Linked DNA regions of Homo sapiens: region 2 is linked to region 1. The links come from fine-mapping of genetic effects on gene expression. Tissue or cell type: whole blood. Region 1 holds a variant in brackets; the other region holds the start of a gene. All regions are shown on one strand. Distances are from middle to middle.

Region 1 (8,108 bases):
GGATGAATGTGGAAGACATGCTAAATGAAATAAGCCAGGCCAAGTGCGGTGGCTCATGCCTGTAATCCCAGCACTTCGGGAGGCCGAGGCAGGATCACTTGAGGTCAGGAGTTCGAGACCAGCCTGGCCAACATGGTGAAGCCCCGCCTTTACTAAAAATACAAAAAAGTAGCTGGGCATGGTGGCGGGTGCCTGAAATCCCAGTTACTTGGGAGGCTGAGGCAGGAGAATTGCTTGAACCCGGGAGGCAGAGGTTGCAGTGAGCCGAGATTGCACCACTGCACTCCAGCCTGGGCAACAGAGTGAGACTCTGTCTCCAAAGTGGGGGAAATAAAAGTCAAACACGGAAGAACTACTCAATTATTCCATTTAGGAATCTAAAATAATCAAACTCGTAGAAGCAGAAGCAGAGACTTGAATGGTGATTACCAAGGTTTGGGGGAGGGTGAATCAGAGAGATGTTGATCCAAGGGTACATAGTTTCACTTATGCAAGGTGAATAAATCCTAGAGATCTACTGTACAACATCGTGCATATAGTTAACAACACTGTATTGTGTACTTAACTGAATCTTCATGTGGCAGTCGGGTACCTAATGAATAAATGCAGAAGCCATGAGGTCTCATGGGTTGCCCGGGTCCTAGATATTGCACTGTCACTCCTGCCACCTTTGACCCTTTATCAAAACAAGTTTTAAAAAACAGCCCAAATTCAAGGGGATGGAGAAATTGATGCCACCTTTCTGATGTGAGAAATGACTATGCCATATTGTAAAGGGACATGGACACGGAGATCATTAATATAATGATTTGCCCTTCCAGGTTATGCCTTATAGGCATTTTTGGTACCTGTATCCCTTCTATTAAATCATAAGTTCCTTGAAGGCAGAAATTAGATCTTATTTACCTTTGTATTTCCCTTTGCAACGATCACAGATGTTGCACGCTATGCAATAAGTGTTGAATTTTTCCGGATGACAAGACAAGTAAAAGGTAAGGGCAAAAAAAAAAAAAAAAACAAAACAAAACAGGGTTGAAGACGAAGACGCATCGTTGTAGAGGTAGGGGAGAAAAGATATATTCCAAATAATTTAAAATCATGATCTCCAAAGCAGGCAAAAGCAAAGGGCAAATATTGATGAGCCATCAGAGTATCTTTTTTTTTTTTTTGAGATGTAGTCTCACTCTGTTGCCCAGGCTGGAGTGCAGTGGCGTGCTCTTGGCTCACTGCAACCTCCGCCTCCCGGGTTCAAGCGATTCTCCTGCCTCAGCCTCCCAGGTATCTGGGACTACAGGCACACACCACCGTGCCCAGCTAATTTTGTATTTTTAGTAGAGATGGGGTTTCAACATGTTGGCCAGGCTGGTCTCAAACTCCTGACCTCAAGTGATTTGCCCGCCTCTGCCTCCCAAAGTGCTGGGATTACAGGCGTGAGCCACTGCGCCCAGCCCAGAATATCTTAATAATAACATTTTTATAGCCAAATAGGTAAAGGCAACAGATAAGAAGAGTTGAGTAGCTGCTTAAGTAGCTAGAGCTTTATTTAAATACAGCTCTTTTGATTCCAAATTTTAGGCTTTTTTTCCCCTTCTTCAAATTTTGCAACTCTGGGGTGGTATTATGTTAGGCAATTGAAGGGAGGGGTGGATAATTTAGGGGTTTTAAATTCACAGAGTAAACATTCTGGTGGTTGGTACCATGCTTTTAGTATTTATATTTCCCAGTGTATGAAATAAAAGATTTTAGAGGGACAATGCTGAAGATGCCTAAAATAAACTTTCCTTATTTATTTCTAGGCCTTTCTAAGCAGTTAGATTCCAAGAGACAAAGTATGTTGTAGAGCTGTTCTGTTTAGTCTTTTCCTGAAATTGCAGCCAGTGTTTTGCCTATCTGCTATTAACACATTACCCTTTGCCTGCCATCTCATATTTGGCATATTTTATAAACAGGCTGAAAGCTCTAAGCTGAATCCTGGCTATATCAGGTTTTGTAATTATATCTTCCTGCAATATTCTTCCCACTCAGACAGCTAATAAATAGTTTAACTGACTGAGATTCAGCCTTTCTCTTTGTCTCTGCAAAATTTAGAAATTCAAAATGCAATTCAAAATAAGTATTTTCTTCATGTACTTTCCCCATGATGTATTTGGTGTCCAACAATGAACCAAATTATGAGGAAGGTGAGTCAACAGAATCATGAGATCCAATTCTTTCTCTTGAGACTCTTATGGTATCGGAGAGATTTGCAGTCTATTTATTTTTTATTTTATTTATTTATTTATTTTTTGGAATAAGATCTCGCTCTTGTCACCAAGGCTGGAGTGTAGTGACACGATCACTGCCACCTCCGCTTCCTGGGTTCAAGCGATTCTCCTGAATCAGCCTCCCCGGTAGCTGGGATTACAGGCGACTGCCACCACGCCTGCTAATTTTTTGTATTTTTAGTAGAAACAGGGTTTCACCATGTTGGCCAGGCTGGTTTTGAACTCCTCACCTCAAGTGGTCCGTCTGCCTCAGCCTCCCAAAGTGCTGGGATTGCAGGCATGAGCCACCGCCCGGCCAGATTTGCAGTCTTTTGGGTATTCTGCAAGCTCCAGGATTCTGGGATTCTGAGTGACCCACAAAGTTCACAGTGTTGCTGCCAAGTTCTAGTAAAGCATTATGTTATACTTTTTTGTTTTTACATAATTCAACGTATTGGGCAATAAGTCACTTTGCTAGTATTCATATTAGTTAATCTTTACTCTGCAGTAAGACTTAATGTAAATGCAACCTTTTAAAATAAAAACGTTGAATTATTCCAGTTGAGGAAAAGTGCAAGTAGCAATCTTAGAGGGCAAGACATCAGTTCGGTTTAAATTAGTGAATTAAATTCTCCATGATTTCGTGGCTCCCTGTGGATACCATGAACACTCTGTTTTACCTCAGTTGTGCCATGCCTCAACATTGAGCTCCTAGAATGCAAAGGCTATTTCTAATTCATTTGTTGTGTCTTTGGTATTTGTCATAATACAATACTATAGATTATTCCTCTTTCTATGTGGTTTTAAAAATTAGGATCATTATCAATTTTGAACTTCTGAAGTCTTGATGAGAGAGTTGTAAACTCATTAAAGATAAATGAGTAGATTTAAACTATTCACGATTCTTCAGGGTTCTTTTTGTGCCTTGAGTCTCTGAGGGGAATGGTTGCTGCTGATAAGCCTAGCCACCAGTCACGTAAGAAGATATTAATATACAGCAATTTCACAGCTGAAGGCTTTTGCTTTTCCACAGCTATGTTAATAGTATTTGTCATTTGGAATCAAACAAGTCCAGGTTATTCAATTCCCGGGGGTGGGAACTTACACAAGAGAATTAACTTCTCTGAGCTCAAGTGCCCCTGTTTATAAAATGGGGACAATAAAATTTATAAAATGGTGACCTCTGTTGTAGGGTTATAAGGATTGAAATTCTATGTGTTTAGTGCCTGGTAAAATCCTTGACATGTAGAAGGTGCTCAGTAAATTATTGTAGTAAAAATACAAGTTTTTTTTTTGGGCCAGGCACGGTGGCTCACACCTGTAATCCCAGCACTTTGGGAGTCCGAGGCAGGTGGATCACTTGAGGTCAGGAGTTCAAGACCAGCCTGGCCAACATGGTGAAACATGGTCACTACTAAAAATACAAAAATTAGCTGGGTGTGGTGGTGCGTGCCTGTAATACCAGCTACTCTGGAGGCTGAGGCAGGAGAATCACTTGAACCCAGGATGCAGAAGTTGCAGTGAGCTGAAATCACGCCACTGTAGTCTAGCTTGGGGTCACTGAGTGAGACTCCATCTCAGAAAAAAAAAAAAAAGACACCAGTTTTTAACAGTCTTTCTCCTCCCTTCAATTTGGTTGTAAAATATTCGAAAAAAAAATTGGAACCTGTACATGTTTTGACCTGAAAAATAGTGGGAAAGTGAAAACATTCCACTTTCCCTTTCGGCATTTATTGTGTCACTTAATTATTTTAAGTATTGAATTTTCAGTCTGTCAGACACATTTCTGATGAAAGTTAAGTGTGATCAGGGCTCACTGCAACCTCAAATTCCTGGGCTCAAGCTATCATCCTGCCTCAGCCTCTCCAGTAGTTGGGACTATAGGGATGTACCACTGTGCCTAGCTTTTTTTTTTTTTTTTTTTTTGTAGTGATGAAGTCTCACTATGTC[G/A]CCCAGGCTGGCCTCAAACTCTTGTCCTCAAGCAATCCTTCCACCTCAACCTCCCAAGGTGTTGGGATTACAAGTGTAAGCCACCACGCCCAGCTAAAAAACAAATTTTAAAGTTATTTGTGCCACTGCTACTCCTAAAATGAATATACTGAAATGCAATGATTTGGATCCTCCCAATATTTTCTTGTGTTATGAGAAGCTGATAAAGTCTTATGAAACTCCTGTGGGATTATTGAAATAATATTTAAATCTAAGTCTTAGGTCTTGTGAGATCCTAGGCAAGTCATTTAGCTCATATGAAAAATGAGTACTACACATTATTATGATCTCAGATTTGCTTTAAGATTGAATGAAACTTTGCATGGGAAGTGGCTTTGTCATTGGAACAGCTGTTATCTTATAATAACACTGAACAGGCCGGGCGCATGGCTCACACCTGTAATTCCAGAACTTTGAGAGGTTGAGGCAGGAGAATCACTTAAGTCCAGGAGTTCGAGACCAGCCTGGCCAACATGGCAAAAACCGGTCTCTACTGAAAATACAAAAAACTAGTCAGGCACACACGTGTGGTCCCTGCTACTTGGGAGGCTGAATCAGGAGAATCGTTTGAACCCAGGAGGTGGAGGTTGCAGTGAGCTGAGATCGCGCCACTGCACTCCAGCCCGGGTGACAGAGTGAGACTCTACCTCAAAATAAATAAATAAATACATACATATATTCATACATTACAATAACACTAAACATCCATAGGGTAAAAAATGGGGGCTTTCATTTGATGGAAAACTTCAGACACAGCTCTTTTCTCATGTGAAACAGGACTGACTAATATCCGCTGGCTTCCTCAGAATTGGTTAAGAGGAGATACTTGATATCCCGGCACCTTTTTCTGATAGGCTGTTGACTGTAGCCTTAGCCTTTCTCAGCCCCTGGCCTGACTCCTCCCCTTCCCTGGGTTGTCTATATCTACCACCTCTATATCTACCACATTTTATTTATGATGGTTGTGTTGTGGGGTGAGGTGGGAAACTTGGCACTGGCTAGGTCTCCTTTGCAATCAGCCTCCCTACAGAGAAATTGGCCATTAATAATTGTATTAGGAAACATTTTATTCTTGCAGAGGGAGACCCATGCTTTACAAAAGATTCCTGACATTTGGTAGCTTGGCCTAGTTCTGGGGTGCAAAATTAGGAAGCCCATCGTTGCGGCATACCTCAGCCATATTTCCACCCCTACCTTTATCAGCTGTAAGGCTGTTATTTTTATCTTCAACTACCTGGCTTATTTATTTTCTCAAAAAGTTCAGAACTCAAATGGGAAAAAGTAGTATTCTTTATTACCCCACTGAAAAGTAAGGGCTAATTTATCCAAGTCTGGTTCCTCACAGGCTGGCCCCTGAAACACTCCACAGAAACCAGCTACTGCTGTGAGTTTAAGACAATCAACCCAACTTATGGTAGAATTCTGAAGTGGCGGTTTGGTTGGATTGATGCTCACCCAACCTAAAATACTGAGTTAGTAGACCATAGACCTGGGCTGCATATGGAGGTTCTACGTTGTTATGCAGCTGCAGCCCCCAAAGCTTGACCCCAGCCTTTTGATTTTGCCAACTGCTAAGTGCTGAGGTGATGACCCAAAAATGGAGGCCAAGGTTCTGCCACATCATATTGCTGGGACCATGGGTTTGGACCCCAGCCCTTGATCACACCATGGGAGCAGCTTATACTCTCTCAATCATGCAAATTTTTTTTTTTAAAGCCCTACAGCCAAAAGACTGAGGTTTCTCTTCCAATGCTTGACGTTTGGCCCTGCTAGATTCTTCTGTGCTGTTTGAATGCAATGGGCAACAGGGCTCACATACCTGCGATGGGTCTTTTCTCTGAATTTCTCCCCTCCCTGTCAATGTTCCAGAAGGGCCTGCTGTGTGTGTGCCCTGCTTGACCCTTCACCTCTGGTACTGTCACCCGTAACCCTCAGCATCTGTTCAGAAACAGTGATCATAATTCATCCAGAGGTCTCTGATGATTCATCCAGAGGTTTCCTAGGCAGGGAGCTTGAATTCTGAGAACTTCAAGATCACAATGAATGACAGAGATGGTTCTTTAACACCGAGGTCTTTGGTCTCTAAATTTTATGTTATTTGCCTGGGAGTTGGTACTTCCATAAACAACTATTGGGTCACAGAGAAAGGCCTGATTCCCTTGTTGCTGTGGGAATAGTTAAATGCCTTGTCTTCCAGAAGTCTTTTTATTAACCCCAGACAGCAGTTCCAGTGATGGATTTCACTGTAAATAAGAATAGCTCATTTTTCTCTGCCCTCTAGAGTTCTTTTTTTTTAGTAGATTTTTCAAAATTTTACTGAAGCTGAAGAAAAAAAAATATATATCAAAATTGATAGCACCCAGATGCTGCAGAAGTAGTGCTGCAGGTGAAAGATACCAGGCTGAGACGAATCTGGAAAAACGGGACTCTTGTAGTCGGAGCTCCAAGGAAAGACTGGATAATAGAAAAGGAAAGATGGAAAAGCCAGAAAGAAGGAGATGTTATAAGAAAGAAAAGTATACACCACACACATATGCGCGTGCACACACACACACACACACAGAGAGAGAGAGAGAGAGAGAGAGAGAAAACTTATAAAATTTTGAGTCTGTCCATTGGTAAATTACTCTGTTACAAGCCGGCAATGAAATTTGAATGGTAGTTTCCATTGCTCAATCCCATGGGAAGTTCTGAGTGTGTAGAGCAGTCAGGCCACTTTCAGTACTCTTGGGACCTCCGCAGACCAGGAGGGACTGTGATCTTGAGATCTTGATGATGCTCAACATGTATCTTGGTTCGCAAAGCATCTTCATGCAAAGGATCTCGTTTTAGTTTCACAACCCACCCGCTGAAGTAGCTGAGTGGAAACTCTCCCCTTCTACAGATAAGGGTAGAAAACAGTGACACCTAGGTCCAGGAGTAAAGATATTCACCCCTTCCGAAAATAATTTATGAATGATTTAAAATAGTTTTGTTGGGACGCAGACACAGGTACGGGATACAAAATGTAAATGTGGAGCCTTAAACATTATAGTATTTTATTTGATTTTGTGTTTTTTTATTATTATTATTATTATTATTATTATTATTATTATTATTATTTTGAGATGGAGTCTTGCTTGGTCACCCAGGCTGGAGTGCAGTGGCATGATCTCTGCTCACTGCAGCCTCTGCCTCCCAGGTTCAGGCAATTCTCCTGCCTCAGCCTCCAGAGTAGCTGGGATTTCAGGCACCCACCACCATGCCAGGCTAATTTTTGTATTTTTAGTAGAGACTGGGTTTCATCATGTTGCCCAGGTTGGTCTCGAACTCCTGACCTCAGGTGATCCGCCCGACTCGGCCTCACAAAGTGCTGGGATTACAGGCGTGAGCCACCGCACCTGGCCCATTTTGGTAGTTTAATAACCACACACGCAGGACCATCTAGGGCAAGTTCTGAGTTTGGGGGCTCCCTTGTGTAGTTCCTTCTTTTTGAATCTGTGCTGAGGATGATTTTCTTTAGATCGTGGCAGAAGTGGTACTATGCTCATTGCAGGCCTCAGTCTTAAGAAGTCCTAATGACCTCTTCTTTTGTACTCTTGGGAATCTTAAGCTGCCATGTAAGAAGTTTGGTTGCCACTGAAGAGATCACATGGCAAATCCACATGAGGAGAAGCCCTGAGATTACATGGAATGAGAGAGAGAGAGAGATAGAGGAGAGGAGAGAGGAGAGAGAGGAGGGTAGGGGAGGAGGGAGAGATCAAATTGGCTGAAAACAATAGCTGACCCCAGGCCCAGCTTTCCTGTAGCTAAATGCAGCCACAAAAGTGACCACTGTAAAGACCAGCAGAAGAACTGCTCAGTTGAGCCCCAAACCAGATTCCAGAACTGTGAGAA
Region 2 (8,108 bases), 82 kb before region 1:
TTATTCCCATTAAACAGATGGGCAACCACGGAAAGGTTGATCAGCTCAAGGTTACACAGCTAAGAAATGACAGTATAAGGACTCAAATCCAGGCAGTCTGAGTCTAGAGCTAGTGCTCTCAACCCCAATGCTGTCATCTGGGGCTCAATTGAGCCTGGATGGTCCAAGATGCTGTCATGCATGTTTGGCAGTTAGCTGGGGCTGTTGGCTACGGCCTCCTCCTCCATTTGGTCTTTCCAGCAGGATACATCAGACTTCTTTATGCAGCAGCTGGATTCCAAAAGGTAAATGTCTTCGAGGCAATTTTTCCATGTGGAAAATTACCTTGATGCAATGGCAGCCTCCATGTATACACCTACAGGTCACGAAATAGATAGGCTTATAGGCCAAATTAAGAAGCTTAAATCACATTATCTGGTGGTTCTAAAACGTATCCTCAAAGGTTTTGGCATTACTCCTATTAAGATGTGGGGTTTATATCCCTTTCCCTTGAATAGGGGCTGGCCCTAGGGGTTGGCTTATAGCCAGTAGAATACAGTGGAAGTGATACTGTGTGACTTCCAAGGATAGGTCAGAAAACGCCACAAGCCTGCTTCTTTTTAGACATTCACTCTGGGGAAAGCCAGCTGTCTGGTGAGAAGATCACCATGCTGGAGTGGCTGTGTGAAAGTGCTCTGGTTCTCAGCCCCATTTGAGCTACCAGTCAGCCATGTCAGTGAGCCATCTTAGCTATTCAGCCCAGCTGAACTTTCAAATGACAGCAGTTGTGTTGAAATCTGATTGATACTACATAAACGACTCCAATAAAATAACTGTCCAAGTAAGTTCTTCCCCAATTTCTGAGCCTCAAAATTAAGAGCAAAATAAATTGGCTAATTAAACTACTAAGTTTTGGCATAATGTGTCTACCCAAAGAGCAGCAATAATAACCAGAAGAGTTTACCAACCAACATAAAACAGAGTGAGAAGCAAGGGGAAAGAGATAGGGTAGATTAATAAGCTTAGGATAGGCTGAAGGACCATAGCACCTAAATTCTGTTTTATGCAATGTTCTCATGTCTTATCCCTCTCCACCATCCAGTCTTCTCAGCACATAGTGTGGCTACAAGGACCAGACTGGAGAGTAAGTAAGGTGACTCAACAGACTGAAGGGGCCTGGGCTCAACATATGTCTGTTCTGTTACAGAGCTGAGGGGCAAGTGTGTCTGGTTATAATGGTAGCTGGCATTAGTTGGCTTTGTAGCTGGGGGTTTATCTGCTTTTCTTGGGAAGAGATTACATGAGGCCATAATAGCGTTACAATGGGTGTTACCAGTAGGTATGCAATTTAGGGATGACATGGCTGTAAATCTGAAGATAGTATGATCTGTACCTTATTAATACTTAAAAGTCCACTTTGTCTTTCTGCCTCTATCTAAAGCAGCATTTTCATTTGTTCCATCCTTTTTATCTATGTTCAACCCATATCCATTCATTCTATGTGTAACCTTTCTCATAAGTGACTTGCTTCTACATTTTAGTTTCTCTTGTTTTATAATAGAATTAAATATTCTATAGTAATATAGCAAAAGCATTACAGCAAACCCCAATGAGCAAACATGTATCATATCACGTTTATGATGTCCTCCTATTTATTGACCAAAACAAGTCAAATAGCCAAGCCCACAGTCAATGTAGAGGTGGACCACACAACGGAGCGGATAATAGAAGGTGTAGTTCATTGGGGATCACTACTATAACAATCTAATACTAACACATAGTTAGGAGACGGTTGATCCAGGGATCGAACTTTCCACAGTCTGTCTCTGGAGGCTACACACTAAACTACTATTCTGGAGGTGGTTGGGAATGGGTTCTTACTGAAGAACTTTTTTCAAACCTCACTTCCCAGGTCTGGGGCCTGTGATCCACCCCAGTGAATCAGAATATCTTGGGGGTAGGAAATTGTGGGGGGGATGGGGTGGTACTCCCATGAGCCTGAGACTGAAATAGCTCTGCAGAGGATTCCAGTGCACACTAGGGAATGAAGGGGGTTTCAAAGACAAGGAAGATATACTTTATGCACTCAAAAAGCTTTCATTTCCACAGAGAGCATTCTTAATTGTTGTTATTACATCACAGAGGCATCACCTTGGAATTTAAAAAAGAAGCGATTCCTTTCAATGTTTAAGAGACATCAGTGTTTCTCAAGCTTTCGTGTGTGTTATTACTGGAGGGCTTGTTAAAACCCACATGACTGGGTCCAATGTCTACGTTCTGATTCAGGAGGTGTGAAGTGGGGTCCACTATTTCTCACGTCTAAAAAGCTCTGGGACACACTTTGAGAACCAGAGTTAGAGAAGTAGGAGGCTTTAGTGGTAACAATCCTCCATTATTCAGTTTAATATTCTACTTACATGTAGCACATTTACTACCTACAAGTTTCCGGGCTGAGTGCAGCACTGTTTATGATAAGGATGGGATTTAGATCTTGATTACGCTCCAGCAGATTTATTAAGTGGATTTATTCTCTAAGGGTGCCTAAGCGTCATTAGACAGGTTCAGATAAAGCAGAGATCTCCTCCCTTAGAAGAGATTAGGGACAGCTTAATGAAGTAGGAGACCTTTCACCTGGGCCTTGAAAGATGCCTAGGACCTGGATCAGGGGAAATCGTGGACAATCAAATTATTCTTCCCGCTTTAGCACAGAGACAAAAAAATCACAAGCAACCACTAGGAAAGGTCTATGACATTCTTGCCTCTGCCTCTAGCATTAACAATTTGCATGCCAGCTGCTGGAATCTGAACGGGGAGGACTGTTCTCGTGTCAAGGGCTCAGTCTCAGACCCTCCTTGGGCAGGGGTGGAACTGGCTTCGCTTTCTCTTTGGGGCGCCCAGAGCGACTGCATTAGAGCCGGCCTGCTCGGCCGAAGCGGCGGTGGGCGCTGACTTGGCGAAGGGCGCAGCTGGGGCGCTTCGTTCCGGAGCAGAGCGCCGTGATCCCGTCGGGGCTGGGGTGGCAGCGCAGCTCTCCGCCTGTCCAGAGCGGGGCCGCACGCCGGGGCACCTTTCAGAACAAGCTCCAGATGTGGCCCCAGGTTGGGGGCCGGGTGGCAGCTGTACTACCCTGGCGGGCGAGGGGTCCAGAGCTCGTTTTCCCTATTCCGATCTGTAGGTTTAACGCCAGCACAGGGTGGCGCACCCTACCTCCTTCCACCTTCACGCACCAGCGCGGGAGGGGACGCGTGTGCACGCTCCTCCCCTAGGAGGGAGGGCGGCCCGAGAGCCTGCAGACTGCGCCTGCGCAGCCTCGCTCACACACCTCCCCGCCCCCCCGCACCTCCTTCCCCTTTCGCCCCGCCCCGTTCCCACTTCTGCTGCCGCTAGGGGTAGCGGCGGCGGCGGCGGCTGCGGCTCGGGAGCGCGGCTGCTTTGAGGGCTCGGGAACCTTACAGAGTGGGGACGTGGGGAGGCTAGAGGGTGAGAAAGCTGGCGGGAGAGTAGGGCGGCGCTGGAGGAGGGCGGTGCGTGGCTGACTCATCCTCTGGAAGATCAGACTGACAGAGACACACACTAGCCCGCCCCGCCCGCCCGCGCCGCTCCTCCTCAGCCGGGAGGCGCCCGCCCGCACCGACCGCCCGCCCTCTCCGGGCGCTGTCCGGGCCCGGCCGTCTCAGAGAAAGTTTTTCCCATCGGAGGGGCGGGAGCCGCCGCGGGCCTTTTGGAAAGGAAGTGGGGACGGAACAGGAGGCGAGAGCCGCGCGGGCCCGCGGAGTGCATGGTGCCCGGCGCCTCGGCTGCCTGGCAGGAGGACCTCGGGGCGGGGTCGAGCTGAGCCCAGCTCCTTCTCGCCTCAGCCGCGCCAGAAACCGCCTTGCCGGACGGCCGCGGGGGTCCCAGCTCCTCAGCTCGCCATGTCCCGGCTGCTGCCGCTGCTGAGGAGCCGGACCGCGCGCAGCCTGAGGCCGGGCCCGGCCGCCGCCGCCGCGCCCCGCCCGCCGTCCTGGTGCTGCTGCGGGCGGGGGCTGCTGGCGCTCGCGCCCCCCGGCGGCTTGCCGGGCGGCCCCAGGCGGCTGGGCACGCACCCCAAGAAGGAGCCCATGGAGGCGCTGAACACGGCGCAGGGCGCGCGCGACTTCATCTACAGCCTGCACTCCACGGAGAGGAGCTGCCTGCTCAAAGAGCTGCACCGCTTCGAGTCTATTGCCATTGCCCAAGGTAAGGGGGGCAGGTGGGGGGCGAGCCCGGGGGCCCCGACGCCCTCCTCTTCTCGCCAGCCCACCGGGAGCCCGCTGCGGCCCTGGATCTTGGACCCCCGCCGCCGCCCCCCTTCCGCCCCCCTCGCCTGTCTGGCCCCACGCCTGGGACGGCTGGGGGCGGGGAGACTTTCCGCCGCCCGAGTTTCCCCCAGGCAGGTAGGACGGGCGCGGGTCGTGCCAGGCAGCCGAGGCCAGCGCTAGCTACTTCCTCCCCAGCCTCCGAATCCGGAGCTTCGGCCTAAAATGCCAGTTAACGCTGTTGGGATTGAGTTTTGATTTGCCCCGTGCCTCCCCTCCCCAGCCCTCCTGTCCCTTAGCCCTTGCTGCTTTCTTGCGAGCGTGCACCCGTGCAGGTGGCATGCTGTGCCTGCTCCGAGAAAGTGCTGCAAACCCGCCTGGCAGGAAGAAACTTTTTGAACGGTTATCAAATGAAGACGTATGGGTGGGTAGCCAAAAGAAGGGGTGTAGCTTCGAAAGTCAGGGATGCTCATAGCTGCTTGTTTCCACACATGTCTGATTGCGTTAATTTCAGCAGCCAAAGGAAACATTTTCTCCAGAAATGGAAAGACAGATTCAAGTTAAACTCCAGTTTTGGTTTTTCCCAGAGGTTGAAAGAATGAAATAAATAAGGAGGTATATTTTTTGGAAATCTGTGGCTCTGTAGTAAAAGTCAGACTGATGCTCAAAAGTAATTGGGAATGATGAAAGCAAAACGATTTTTAAACTAGCATGTTAAAATAGGATATTTCTAAAAGGAGTCCAGAATGGGGTAGGGCAGAATTTGAGTCTAGGTGAAAAAGCTAAAAGTTCAGAAAATAAAAAGGATGAAAGGAGCAAACGACTAAAATGGATGTCTTAAAATATTTCTGCCACTTAAATACAGTTATGTAAACAAAACACATTGCTTCAGTTTGTATTACATTCTGATGTGTTTGAAAGTTTTAAAAAAGTTTACTCTCCTCTCTAAACTTGGTAGGTACATAAACATCTCATAGATTCCAAAGTGTAGAGCACATTGATTCGGATCATGCCATTTGATTTGCCAGACTTGAAAGTATATCTTTAGCTGATGTGCAGGAATGGAGGAAAGAATTATCTACCTCATGTAAGCAGGACGTTATCTGTACTACTTCAGAAACTTGTTTTAGTTGTGGCTTTTAATCAGATGTTTTCCCCCTCAGTTCAGGAAATTGTGGACCAATTTATAGTGGATGATTGATTCCAGACATTGTTTACCCACAGTGCTTTTACAGGAAAATGTAACGTCCGATCAATTCCGTTATTCAATGTGTAATCATGATGTTATATGCAATCATAATGAAACACTAGCACATTTGTAATCTATGTGTGCACTCAGTATGCAGTTTAAAAATAGTCAATTCTGAAAATATGCTCCTTGGAAAAATAATATAGTCAGTCATGTACTAGAACATTAACTTTTGAATCTTTCTGCACTGACAAGACTATTTGAACACACATTTTACCTTTTCCAAGTAATTTCTTGGAAATTCTGCATTGTCAACAAGTTACAAGATTGGAGGGCCCTATGAATATAGTTTTGTGGCAGTTCTTGAAAAACATGTCCTGCAAGGTGACTGAATAATTTTTTTCTCATACATTATTATTTTTTACATGCCAGCAGTATTGCAGTAGCAATGCTACATTTCCTAATAAAGATAATATTTTTAAATTTAACGTGGTTTTAAATATTCTGAAAAGGACCTAAGCACTTTAGTCAATGGAGATCATTAGCATCAATTAAACTTAGTTATGTTACTAATATGAGAGAGAAATTAGTAATTTAAATTGTCTTCTTTGCTCAGGAGAAACAGTCAAGGATATTTGAAACAATGGTTAGTCAGATGCTTATCTCTCCTCTTTATATGCTAAAGAACATCAAAGTTTAAATCAGCTATTTTTGCTGATGTCGATGACAAAATGATTGTCCTATGAATCAAATGACACAGATGCTGCTGCTTTGTTAGTGTATGTAGTCTTGGTGTTCACTTACTGTTTTCAGTATCAATACATATAGTTATGGAGATAACTAGAATCATCACTTAGGAAATTACCTTATTCATTAATCATTAAGGTAAAAGGGATTTTATTATGTTGGGAATGCGTACAGCTCATTCCATTGCTGAAATCAACAATTTTTTTCCAGCCAGATAAATGAAAAACTCCCATGTTTTCTTTTATTGTTGCTTTTTGAATAATGTTTTGAAGTACTCAACCGATGTATTGTGTGTGTGTACTAAGTGTACTTTCTAACAAAATTAATTCTATTTAAAGGGCTATTTCTTGCCATAGGCAATCTTGTGTGTCTTTGGAAAGGGTGCTTGTATAAACTAATGAAGTGTTTTGGATTTGGTATGGAAATGTTACTGAAAAAATATCATCCATGCTTTGATATGGCAGTGGAATCTGCTGTTGAAATTTGGCACATTTGCCCTTATCTTTCTTATATGTTTATCAGTAGGCATGTGATATAATCTGTGATGAGATAAAGCTTTGGAATCAGTTCGTAATAGATAAGGCAGACCTTGTGGGATATCTTATCATAGTTAAATAGAATATTGTGATTTTTAAAATTACAAACCAATTTCTTTCCCAATTTAAAAAAAAGTTGAGTTTGCGCCTTCAATTTACCTGCTCAGCCTGATCTCTCTTCTTCCAGAAACAGACCATATTCTGCTGATAGAGCATTATTCATGTTTTTACAAGTAGTACTGGCAAGCTGACATTATTACAGTGGCCTTTCAATGTTAGCCAAAATTTTTAAAACAAATTTTCTTCCCAATTTTTGTAATTAATATTTCCATTTATAATTATTTTTTAAAGCTTTTAAAATATAGCAATTTGGTATTGAAAAATAGACAGTGCTCATTGTATTAGTTATCCATTGCGGTATAACAAATTATCCTAAAACACAGTGGCTTAAAACAAGCATGTATTAACTCATAATTTCTGAGGCTCAGGAATGCTATAGCATCTTAGTTGAGTATTTCTGGCCCAGGATCTTAAGAAGTTGAAATCAAGCTCTCAGCTGGGGTGGCATCATCTGAAGTCTTAACTGGGGCTGGAGGATCCATTTCCAAGAAGTCTCACTCACATGGCTGTTGGCTGGATGTCTCAATTCCCTCCCATGTGGTCCTCCACAGGGCTGCCTGAGTATTCTCATGACATGGCAGTGGGTTTCCTCTAGAGCAAGTGATGAGAGAGCGAGAGAGCAAGAGAGAGCGAGTGTGTTTGCAAGACAGCACCTGTGGGCACCTAAGCTGGAAGCCACAGACTTTTATAACACAGTCTTAGTAGTGACAGTCCATCTCTTTTGTCCTGACACATTGTGGGAGAGTACTACAGAAGGTGTGAATACAAGGGAGTGGGAATCATCGGGGGTACATCTTTGAGGCTGGCTTCCACACTTATTTAAGGTGGTGTAATTAATGCTCATCAGAGAGTTACACAGAGAGACAAGAACTGGCTATTGGAGAGGTAAAATGAGAGATATGTTTTGAAAAAAGGAGCCTCTTAGGGAATATTTTTGTTATAATATGTATACTATAAGCCACAGACTTTTAAAACGCAGTCTTCGAAGTGACAGTCCATCTCTTTTGTCCTGACACATTGTGGGAGAGTACTACACAAGGTGTGAATACAAGGGAGTGGGAATCATCGGGGGTACATCTTTGAGGTTGGCTTCCACATTATTTAAGGTGGTGTAATTAATGCTCATCAGAGAGTTTACACAGAGAGACAAGAACTGGCTATTGGAGAGGTACAATGAGAGATATGTTTTGAAAAAGGGAGCCTCTTAGGGAATATTTTTGTTATAATATGTATACTTAAGATATTTAAAAAATGAGATTG

The links. PIP is the estimated chance that this variant, and not a neighbour inherited with it, causes the effect.
Region 2: it holds the start of TMEM65, and the variant in region 1 is fine-mapped to the expression of TMEM65 in whole blood (TOPMed, PIP above 0.99).

The regions. Positions count from the first base shown.
Region 1 is chr8:124,286,285-124,294,392 of GRCh38, reverse strand. It overlaps the pseudogene LOC112268031. Among named protein-coding and RNA genes, the nearest start is that of TMEM65, 82 kb to the left of the region's middle. The variant G/A (reference allele first, on the strand shown) is at 4,194.
Region 2 is chr8:124,367,943-124,376,050 of GRCh38, reverse strand. TMEM65 (transmembrane protein 65) reads left to right here and starts at 3,350. Exons shown (of 7, transcript NM_194291.3): 1 at 3,350-4,197. The coding sequence starts at 3,894. RefSeq lists enhancers at 2,788-2,977, 3,189-3,483 and silencers at 3,208-3,437, 3,558-3,827, 3,958-4,087, 4,138-4,267, 4,278-4,327.